Homo sapiens: one gene and its partners. The protein of the gene in region 1 interacts with the protein of each later gene in a pairwise test. Each region holds a gene or a part of one and is shown on either strand. Other genes may lie near its edges. The genes, in order: HSD17B4, EPHX2 and CASP9.

What was found.
Region 2: the proteins of HSD17B4 (region 1) and EPHX2 come close enough for resonance energy transfer, tested with the Homo sapiens proteins (one large-scale study listed by BioGRID).
Region 3: the proteins of HSD17B4 (region 1) and CASP9 interact in a two-hybrid assay, tested with the Homo sapiens proteins (one large-scale study listed by BioGRID and IntAct).

What each region holds. Positions count from the first base shown.
Region 1 is NC_000005.10:119,497,466-119,501,117, forward strand, and holds part of HSD17B4 (peroxisomal multifunctional enzyme type 2), read left to right. Parts: intron 1-1,851; coding exon 1,852-2,088; intron 2,089-3,652. UniProt on the Homo sapiens protein: Bifunctional enzyme acting on the peroxisomal fatty acid beta-oxidation pathway.
Region 2 is NC_000008.11:27,489,624-27,493,375, forward strand, and holds the start of EPHX2 (bifunctional epoxide hydrolase 2), read left to right. Parts: upstream 1-1,519; 5' UTR 1,520-1,585; coding exon 1,586-1,686; intron 1,687-3,752. UniProt on the Homo sapiens protein: Bifunctional enzyme. The C-terminal domain has epoxide hydrolase activity and acts on epoxides (alkene oxides, oxiranes) and arene oxides. Plays a role in xenobiotic metabolism by degrading potentially toxic epoxides.
Region 3 is NC_000001.11:15,517,635-15,521,286, reverse strand, and holds part of CASP9 (caspase-9 isoform alpha precursor), read left to right. Parts: intron 1-2,891; coding exon 2,892-3,177; intron 3,178-3,652. UniProt on the Homo sapiens protein: Involved in the activation cascade of caspases responsible for apoptosis execution. Binding of caspase-9 to Apaf-1 leads to activation of the protease which then cleaves and activates effector caspases caspase-3 (CASP3) or caspase-7 (CASP7).

The DNA of each region.
Region 1 (3,652 bases):
GATAGCTTTAAATTGACTTTAAGTAGATTTGAGTTGTGTGGGAATTTGTATTTGGGAGGGGAGACTATGACACCATGACTTCTGGAGGTTATATGCTCCCAGGTTCTTTGTTGTGTTTTTTACCCCTTTACCTAATGCCCATAAGGCTTTAAACCTCTATGTTGAAAGTGAAGTGCCTATAATCAGCAAAATTTTGTTTGAAATGTAAATAATTTTGAAACTTTTTTCACATACAAAAAAATTATTTTCTAAGCTATTTATTGCTAAATGAGTGATGATAAAACTGTATAAAATATGTACTAAATATTGATAGAATTTGAACATAAGCTCAGATATTAAACTTTTGCTTTTTCTTTTTCAGTACCATTAGATTTCTGTATCTAACTGTATGACAAGTATCATTTTTTTTTCTTGACCATCAGTAATCCTACTTTAGTAACATTTTCTGACTCTTTAGAAAAGGATATCTAGTTTAGTGCTCTTTTGGGTCCGTTTCTTTTAAGGGAAGCATCGATATTGTATTTTAGAACTATTTCAACATGGCTGCAAGTAAAATGCTTCCCATTGAGTCAGAAATTCGAGAACAATTGTGATAGCTCATGTGAAATTTGCCTATTTACTGTTCCTGTTTGTATTCTTTCTTAAAAAAACTGTACTGGATAAATAGGAAGAAGTAAATCATATGCCATATTAGATTCTGTTGTTTTGTAACCTATGGTAGGCATTGTGATAAAGAAAATTAAAATTCTAATTTTAAGCCTGAGAATGTGGTCAGTATAGAAATGTGATTTTTCCTCAAAATAAGGGTTGGCAAACCTTTTTGATGAAGGGCCATATAGTAAATATTTTAGGCTCTGTGGGCTACATAGTGCTTCTATTCTAGTACATATTCTTTCTCTTTTTCTTATTTTTAATCAACCTGTATAAACCATTTTAGCTCTTAGTCCTTGTTTGCCAACTTCTACTTTAGAATAAAAATGATTGAAAAATTGGACATTATTCTTTTATATGTACTTCACTTATTAGCTACGCATATTATCACTAAGTAGAAAAAGACAACATCCAGTTAGACAAAGGATATTCCTGGGAAGGAAATTCAAGTTAATTTTATTTTACTTAACATTATGAGGGACTGGGCGCAGTGGCTCACGCCTGTAATCCCAGCACTTTGGGAGGCCGAGGTGGGTGGATCACGAGGTCAGGAGTTCCAGACCATCCTGGCCAACATGGTGAAACCCTGTCTCTACTGAAAATATAAAAAAAAATTAGCCAGGCATGGTGGCACGGGCCTGTAGTCCCAGCTACTCGGGAAGCTGAGGCAGGAGAATTGCATGAACCTGAGAGGCAGAGGTTGCAGTGAGCCAAGATCATGCCACTGCACTCCAGCTTGGGCGAGAGAGCGAGACTCCATCTCAAAACAAACAAACAGAAACCATTATGAGGCAATCAAATTTACATCCATTAAGCAGTGTTTTACTCATCTGTTTACAGTGAACTTTATACATTAGATCTTACAAGCAATTTACTATCCTTAATAACAAATTCATTATTTTTTGGATTTTTGGGTAGCTAATAGTTGCTGAATTAGAGACAGGAAAGTTGAGTATGAGGCATACTGTCTGTTAGCAAGAAGCAAGCAATAAAAAACTTCTTAACTGTAAATGAAGTCCTTTTCTACACATTACCTAATTAGTTTCTATTAAAAAATAAAATATAATTGCAATAATTATGCTCCATCAAATTCACTAACATTCTAGTCACATCTATTCAAAAACAAAACTAGGTATGTAAGAAGTTAATAGTTTTGAAAAGTTATCAATGAAATAAATTACTTTTTAAAACTGTTCTTAGGCTGGAGCTATTGGCCAGAAACTCCCTCCATTTTCTTATGCTTATACGGAACTGGAAGCTATTATGTATGCCCTTGGAGTGGGAGCGTCAATCAAGGATCCAAAAGATTTGAAATTTATTTATGAAGGAAGTTCTGATTTCTCCTGTTTGCCCACCTTCGGAGTTATCATAGGTCAGAAATCTATGATGGGTGGAGGATTAGCAGAAATTCCTGGACTTTCAATCAACTTTGCAAAGGTATGCCTAATAAAAAACCTTTATTTTGCTTTTCTATTTCTGTAAATATTATTCATTAATGTCATATCTTATATATATGTGTGTGTAGTGTGTGTATATATATTTATATAATTATTTATAGTGGTTAGTTTAGCATATCTTTTGATTTTTCTTTTTAAGAATAAAAGAGGGGAGAGTTAGTTCAAAATGCCAGCAAAAAGAAGAAAATAACAAGTATGTGTAGTCCCATAACCCTGGCATAATGTTATTCTCTCTCTGCCATTTACTTGATTCTTGACCAAGGGTAAATAACATCTCTAGGCTTCAGTTTCCTTATCTATAAAATGGATATGATAATCCTCACCTCATGACATTGGTGAAGAAGCAAGCCAGGGAGGAGTATTTAAAGCAAATAGCACATACTTGACTTGTTTTTGGAACAGTAATAGGGCCAGCATAGCTGTAGAGTGAGCAAGGGGGCAATGGTAGGAGAAGGTCATGGAGTAATTGTAAAGATTTCAGCATATACTTTGATGAACATGTGAAGCCATTTGTTGATCTGAGCTGAGTAGTGACATGATCTGGCTATGTTCACAGACTGGTACAAGCTTGTTGCTTTTGGAGACTAGGTTATAAGGGAGTCAAGCATGAAAGCAGAGAAACCACTTAAGAGTCTATTATAGTAATCCAAGTAAAAGTGCTGCATATGAGGGTTAGAAAAGAGGAGTCAAGGATGAAGATGTTTGTTCTGGATAATTGGGATATGTATATATATATAGAGAGAGAGATGGGTGCATATATATACATTGTATATAGTTATACATTGTATATAGTTATACATTACACATATCTATATGTAATGTATAATTATGTATAGTGTATTTAATATGTATAGTAATTACATATGGCATTATGTATAATTTATACATACACATTTATTTTAAGGTGGGGTTGATCAGGAGTTGGTTTTAAATATGTTTGAGGTGTCTGTTACACATTTAAGTGGAAATATAAGATGGACAGTTGAATATATGAGTCTAGAGTTCAGGGAGGGGTCTAACTGGGTCCTTAGCATTTACGTGATGTTTAAATACTGGAGATTAGATGAAGTCACCTAATGTGTGAGAGTAAGTAGAGAAGAGGCCTGAGTTTAGAGGCCCTGAAATGTTGAGAGGGTAAAGAGATACAGAGGAACTAGCAAAAAGAGACTGCACAGGAATGGTTGGTGAGGTATGAGGAGTATCATGAGAATAGGGTATTTGAGAAGCCAAATGAATGAAGTGTGTCAAGAAGGAGGAGGGAACAGTGGTGAGAAGTTCTTTGAGACAGGGTATATTTTATTTCTTGGAGTAAGATTCAGGTTATGAGCCTGGTAATAATTTTTGAATCATGGGGCTATGAGCTGGTATCTGTAACTTTGACTGATTGGAGAACTTATTTACTGGTGGATCAGTTAGCCCATTGCTGCTCTGAGTTGATGGCCACTTATTTTATTAGAGTGTTTCATGAAGTTGGGAGGAAGACAAGAAATATGTGCTGGGCAGTTTGCTGTTTCATTCACACTCCCATGGTTAGTTACTATATA
Region 2 (3,752 bases), on another chromosome or scaffold:
TTACAGGTGTGTGCCACCATGCCCAATCTGGAGATTTAACAGGTTTCATACTATATAGGTCAGGCTGCAATTTTCTTTCTATTTTTTAAAATTCAATTATACCTTTGAGATCAACTAACTTCATGAGAAACTAGCTTGCTGTACTCCCTTCTCTGCCTATCTTTCAGTCTTCAAATCCAGAGTAATCCAGTTTCTACCATAAAGGGCCCACAAAAAGTGTTCTGAAACATCCGGTGTCATCCAAGTCCAAAATTGGACAGCTTTTTTTTCAGTTCTTCCTGTAACATTTGGCAGTGTTGGCCACTCTCTGCTTCTTTGGCAAGAATCTCAGAAAACACTAATAACTGCTCCAGGCAGGAGCCTGGAAGAGGTTACCAAGCTAGAGAAGGAAGCAACAGCATAGCTTGCTAAGGGCAAACAGCCCAGAGGAAACCCACGGCTCTGGTCAATCCTGTTGTTGATTGCTAGATCCAGAGACTGTTGTAGACCTCCCAGTTACAGTGAGGTATCTGACAACCCCTCACAAGGTTCTTGAAGCTCCGTGGTGGAGGGTATCTTGGATAAATCCACAGAGACACATTCAAGAGTAAATTCTCCACTGTTGGAGACCTCACTCACTCTGTTTGGTCTCCACCAAAGACACGGTTTTTAATTCATGGAGCTGCACTACAACAGCTCAAGAACTCCCAGCCAAAGTTTTAGTTTTTCTAGGAACATAAACGAGCCAATAGTGTGGAAATCGGTGATTAAAAACAAACCTCGCACATTTTAAGACAGAATTATTACAAGTAGCATGTACAAAAGGAAAATAATAGCCTACATTTAGTTCTTCTAAGCTTCATTCCACAAGAGATTGAAATCGAAGTATTCTGGGCTGGCACACGATAGCTGGAACATCATATTTTATTCTAGAAACACATTTGCCTTGGCAAAGAAGAGCGTGCCTAGAGGAGTGGTCAGGATAGTGAGGGATCTGTGATCCTTCGTTCTGAATCTAGAAAAGTCACTGGATATGCCCCTCCCCCGCCCCCCAACACGGTCTTATGTTCTGAATGTAGAAGTCACTGGATGTGCTGACACACACACACACACACACACACACACACACACACACACACACACACACACACAGAGTCTGTGGCCTCTTTCCCAGGCATTCCAAGTCCAGCAAGTTCGCAGGGAGCTGTCAGTCCGTCCAGGAAGGCCCGGGCCTGGGTTTGCCTCTTCAAGCAGCTACTGCAGGGGCGTGGGGAGGGGGCATAAGAGACTTTGGACTTTCCTTTGAGACAGTAGAAAGCGTTACATCCAGAGGCGAGATTCTAGCCTGGGGTCCCCGCCTTCCCGGCCTCCTCTTCCTCTCCCTCTGACTCCCTTTCCTGTGCCCCTCCCCCTGCCTCTTTCCCGGCCAGAGTCCAGCCTTAACCCGGGCAGAGGGCGGAGTCCCGTTAAGGGGGTGTGGGGAGGAGGCGGGGCCAGGGCAGGGGCGGGGCAGAGCCGGGCCAAGCTGGGCGGGTCATGCGCCCTGGCCTTCGCGCATCTCCCAGGTTAGCTGCGTGTCCGGGTGCTAGGCTGCAGACCCGCCGCCATGACGCTGCGCGCGGCCGTCTTCGACCTTGACGGGGTGCTGGCGCTGCCAGCGGTGTTCGGCGTCCTCGGCCGCACGGAGGAGGCCCTGGCGCTGCCCAGGTAAGGGGGCCCAGCGCCGCCGCCGCAGTGGGTCGGGGCCTCAGGAGGCAGACCGCGCTGGGCTTGCAGCCCAGCTTTCAGATTGCTCCTGTGCCGGAGCCCTGCGAATCATGCGAATCATGAAACTGAAGACCTGGCCCTGAAGTCCCAGTGCATATGAGGAGATCCGTTGTCTTTCTAAATGTTCATAATTAAACGTTGCCAAGGTCTCCAAAATTGCTTTCTGTGAACTTTTCCAAAAGGGAGAGGAGTTACTCATGGAGCTTTGTGCTTCTGCTGCCTCCTGTCTAATGGGGTGGCGCTTAAAGATGCGAGCCGAGATTCAGGAGAGAAGAAAGTTCTCTCCCCAGGTGTGGGTTGCATGCTTACTTGTGTAATAGCAAACTGCAGCAACCGCCCAAAGCCACATCACTGGGAAATGGTAGATGGGGTGTGCAGAGTGAGAGCTCAGGGACTTGGGAAAACACCTGTTCTACTACATGAAAAAACCACCCCACCAGAATCTGAAGCTATTTATACAATATGGTTTCAGCTATGGAAAAAAGGTACATGCAGAAAAGTGCCTGAAAGAAATAGGCCAAAGTACATCAAATGAGATTAGGAATAATGTAATGATTTTCTTTCTCTCTCTCTTTTTTTTGTGTTTTTTTTTTTTGTAGTTTCCAACTTCTAAATTTATAAACAATGTATTATTCCCACATTCAGAAAGGAGAGAAGTATACTTATTTATAAAGTGAAAAAGAAGGCCAGGCATGGAAGCCATTGTTCATATCCTCCTTTTACATATGAGGAAACTGAGGCACAGAAAGAAACCAGCTGTCCAAATCACATAGCTGTTAAAGAGCAGAGCCAGAAATCCAACCCCAGTAGTCCATGTCCGGAGCCTTTGCTTTTAATATAGTAAGGAAGATGAGATGGCAAGTAGCTTGAGGGAAAGGCATGTAATCTCTGTGCTTTGGGAAGCTAAGGTGGGAGGATCACTTGAGGCTGAGAGTTCAAGACCAGCCTGGGTGAAAGAGCAAGACCCTGTCTCTCCAAAAATAAAAATAAAATTAGCTAGACATTAGTGCATGCATGTAGCCCCAGCTACTTGGGAGGCTAAGGCAGAAGGATTGCCTGAGCCCAGGAGTTGGAGGCTATAGTTGTGTCCAGAGTTGGTTCCTGTCGGTGGGTTCGTGGTCTTGCTGACTTCAAGAATGGAGCTGTGGACCTTCGCAGTGAGTGTTACACTCGTAAAGATGGCGCAGACCCAAAGAGTGAGTGATAGCAAGGTTTATCGTGAACAGCGAAAGCACAAAGCTTCCACAGCATGGAAGGGGACCCCAGCAGGTTGCCGCTACTGGCTGGGGTGGCCAGCTTTTATTCCCTTATTGTCCTCTCCCATGTTCCATTTCTGTCCTATCAGAGTGCCCTTTTTTCAATCCTCCCCGTGATTGGCTACTTTTAGAATGCTGCTGATTGTGCGTTTTACAGAGCGCTGATTGGTGCATTTTACAATTCTCTTGTAAGACAGGAAAGTTCCCCAAGTCCCCACTCGACCTAGGAAGTCCAGCTGGCCTCACCTCTCAATCCTCCCTCATAACAGGACACCCCACCTGCTACTGGGAACTGGGTGATGACCACTCTAGCTACTTCCTGCTGGATAGGGGCAAAGAAGGGGCCCTGCCGTTGTAGTGTCCTCCAGAGGGGAACTCTCTAGGCCAGTCAAAGGGCCAGTGGGTCAGTCTAGCAGTCCTCGGTAGAAGTTGTGAGTTAAGCTCATTTGGGGTTCCATTTGTAAGACCATCTGTAGCTTGATGGCCTTGATCCTGGAGGAAACAAATTTGAGGAGGAGGTTAAAAATACAGGGACTGAAGGTGAGTAATAGCAAGATGGCTGTCACGGGACCTAGAAAGGGGAGAAGCCAAGTCACCCAACTCCAGAGGTTGGTATAAGAATTTGAAAGGTGTTGTCTGGTTTCAGAAGCCTTTTCCTGTAAATGCCAGGCAGCATCCTGTACTATCCCTGACTGGTTAGTTTAAAAACAACACTCCTCCCCTAAGAAGGTGCAAAGTCCTCCTTTCTCA
Region 3 (3,652 bases), on another chromosome or scaffold:
CTTTTTTTTTTTTTTTTGAGGTGGTGTCCCACTTTTTCGCCCAGGCTGGAGTGCAATGGTACGATCTCAGCTCACTGCAACCTCCACCTTCCGGGTTCAAGCTATTTTCCTTTTTTTTTTTTTTTTTTTTGAGACGGAGTCTCGCTCTGTCGCCCAGGCTGGAGTGCAGTGCCGCAATCTCGGCTCACTGCAAGCTCCGCCTCCCGGGTTCATGCCATTCTCCTCCCTCAGCCTCCCGAGTAGCTGGGTCTACAGGCACCCGCCACCACGCCCGGCTAATTTTTTGTATTTTTAGTAGAGATGGGGTTTCACCGTGTTAGCCAGGATGGTCTCGATCTCCTGACCTCGTGATCTGCCCACCTTGGCCTCCCAAAGTGCTGGGATTACAGGCTTGAGCCACCGCGCCCAGCCAGGGTTCAAGCTGTTCTGCCTCAGCCTCCTGAGTAGCTGGAATTACAGGTGCGCACTACCACGCCCAGCTAATTTTTTTGTATTTTTAGTAGAGACGGGTTTCACCGTGTTGGTCAGGCTGGTCTTGAACTCCTAACCTTGTGATCTGCCTGCCTTGGCCTCCCAAAGTGCTGGGATTACAGGCGTGAGCCACCGCGCCTGGCAGGAGACTCCCCTTCGCGGTCTGCTAAGTAATGGGTGTCTCCCCAGACACTGGCATTACCGCTTGACCAAGGAGCCCTCAAGCGGCCCTTATGCGGGCCTGACAGAGGGCTCACCTCTTGCCTTCTAGGTCACTTCTCACAATGTCCCTTCAGCACCTGACCCTATACCCGCCGGTTATTCCTAAGTTATATTAGCAATGCAACAAAGAGTAATATTAAAAGCTAATGATTAATAATGTTTATAATAATGATTGATAATTGTCCATGATCATCTCTATACCTAATTTGTATTATGACTATTCTTATTCTAACTATTTTCTTTATTATACTGAAACAGTTTGTGGCTTCAGTCTCTTGCCTCGGCACCTGGGTAATCTTTCGCCCACAAAAATTCAGTTCCTCAGTTGTACTACCCAAGTGCTTAATGGTCATGTGATATATGGTTACTAAATAGGACAATACAGACCAAGAATATTTCCATCATCACGGAAGGTTCTCATAGACAGTGCTGCTGTAGGATAGTTGAGGACACGGTGCCATCTTATCCCTGTGGATCCTGAGAACCTGTCCAGTGCTGGGTATCTGAGGACAGGTGGCAGATAACCAGACTCTTCCTTCTTAGTGACTGACCCCACCATCCTGACACCTCTCAATTTTTTTTTTTGAGACAGGGTCTTGCTCTGTCACCCAGGCTGAAGTGCAGTGGTGCTATCACAGCTCACTGCAGCCTTATCTCCTGGGCTCGAGCCATCCTCTTGGGAGCCTCAGCCTCCTGAGTAGCTGGGACTACAGGTGCGTGACACCATACCTGGCTTTTTTTTTGTTATTTTTTGTAGAGACAGGGTCTCACTGTGTTGTCCAGGCTGGTCTCGAACTGGGCTCAAGCTATCCTCCCACTTCAGCCTCCCAAAGTGCTGGAATTGCAAGCATGAGCCACTGTGCCTGGCCTGCCTGTCAACCTTGACCCTTGCTCTGTCTTCACAGTCCCCCCAGTCAGTGCCCATGTCCTATGGACCCTCTCTCTTTGTATCTCTGCTTTGTCCTTTCACTTCTCTCTATTCTAGCTGCACCATCTTTGCTGCCTCCTGATCTGGCTATGGCTCACTCCTTTCCATTTTTCACCCTGACCCCTGGATGACTTTTTGAAAGGCCATATCTGTCTCTGTCACTCCATTCTTAAAACTCTTTGGTGGCCGGGCATGGTAGCTCACGCCTGTAATCCTAGCACTTTGAGAGGCTGAGGTTGGTGGATCGCTTGAGGTCAGGAGTTTTGAGACCAGCCTGGCCAACATGGTGAAACCCTGTCTTAACCAAAAAATACAAACATTAGCCAGGCATGGTGGTGGGTGCCTGTAGTCCCAGCTACCTGGGAGGCTGATGTGGGAGAATCATTTGTACCCAAAAGGTGGAGGTTGCAGTGAGCTGAGATGGTGCCACTGCATTCCAGCCTGGGTGACAGAGCAAGACTCCTCAAAAAACAAACAAAAAAACAACCGATGGCTGGCCACGGTGGCTCATGCCTATAATCCCAGCACTTTGGGAGGCCAAGGCTGGAGGATCACTTGAGGTCAGTTCAAGACCAGCCTGGGCAACATGGTGAAACCCTGTTTCTACTAAAAATAAAAAAAAAATTAGTCAGGTATGGTGGTGTGTGCCTGTAACCCCAACTACTCCGGAGGCTGAGGCAGGATAATCGCTTGAACCTTGGAGTTGGAGGTTGCAGTGAGCTGAGATTGCACCAGTACACTCTAGCCTGGGTGACAGAGTGAGACTCCGTCTCAAGAAAAAAAAAAAAAAACAAAAACAAAACCAAAAAACTCTTTGGTGGCACCTGACAGGTCTCAGGATGAATTTCTTGGCCTGGCCACACAAAGGCCTTGTCCCTTGCCACTATCTACCTCCCACCTCATAAGACTCTGAATTCGCTATTCACTTCATGATATCCTCAGCCCCATGTGCTTCCCTCTGGGCACTTGTCTCTTGTTGTGTCATTGCTGATTTGTCTGATTGCATTCCCCATTAGAAATTTGCTCCTTAAGGACTGAGACTGTCCATGGCAGCATTTTCAGCACTTAGCATAGTGCTGGGCATCTTTTGCCCTGCAAAATAATGAACAGATCAGCAAAGGCTGGTAAATGGCACACAGTGCACCTGCAGCTCCATTGCTGCCCACGTGCCTGATTGTTTAGACTTACAGTAGCTGGGAAATGGGGAGACAAGGTGAGAGCCATATAAAAGTACGTGGATAATTAGTATCCTGCCTTTCTTTCCAAACAGCGGGCAGGCTCTGGATCTCGGCGGGATCAGGCCAGGCAGCTGATCATAGATCTGGAGACTCGAGGGAGTCAGGCTCTTCCTTTGTTCATCTCCTGCTTAGAGGACACAGGCCAGGACATGCTGGCTTCGTTTCTGCGAACTAACAGGCAAGCAGCAAAGTTGTCGAAGCCAACCCTAGAAAACCTTACCCCAGTGGTGCTCAGACCAGAGATTCGCAAACCAGAGGTTCTCAGACCGGAAACACCCAGACCAGTGGACATTGGTTCTGGAGGATTTGGTGATGTCGGTAAGTAGCAAGAGAGTGATTGGTGGGTGGGCATGACACGTAGTCATTTGGGACTCACTATGAGTACAGCTGGGTGGGCTGAGATTCAGAATTTAATTTTAGCATTGTCTTTCTGAATGTTCATAGGGATGGCAAAATTCTGGGAGGTTTTCAGGAGGTTGAATCTTGGCAGCCCCTCCTCTGAAAAGCATGTGTTGAGGTCTGTTTTGGATGTCCCAGGTTTTTTGTTTTTGTTTTTGTTTTTTTTCCTGCCTTTGAGATAGCAGGCCCCAGGTTTTGATCAATGTTTCCAGAGCCATCTATTGTTTTGGATTTGCCTTTCAGTCTGGGTGGGTAGCCTGGACTACCTCATGTCTGGGGGCAGGAGACAGGCCTCAGTTGTATCTGCCCCATACAAACAGACATCTGCAAAGTATTTACCCTTACCTTCTTCGTTTATAGCAACCTTGCAAGGCAGGTATCATTAGACCCATCC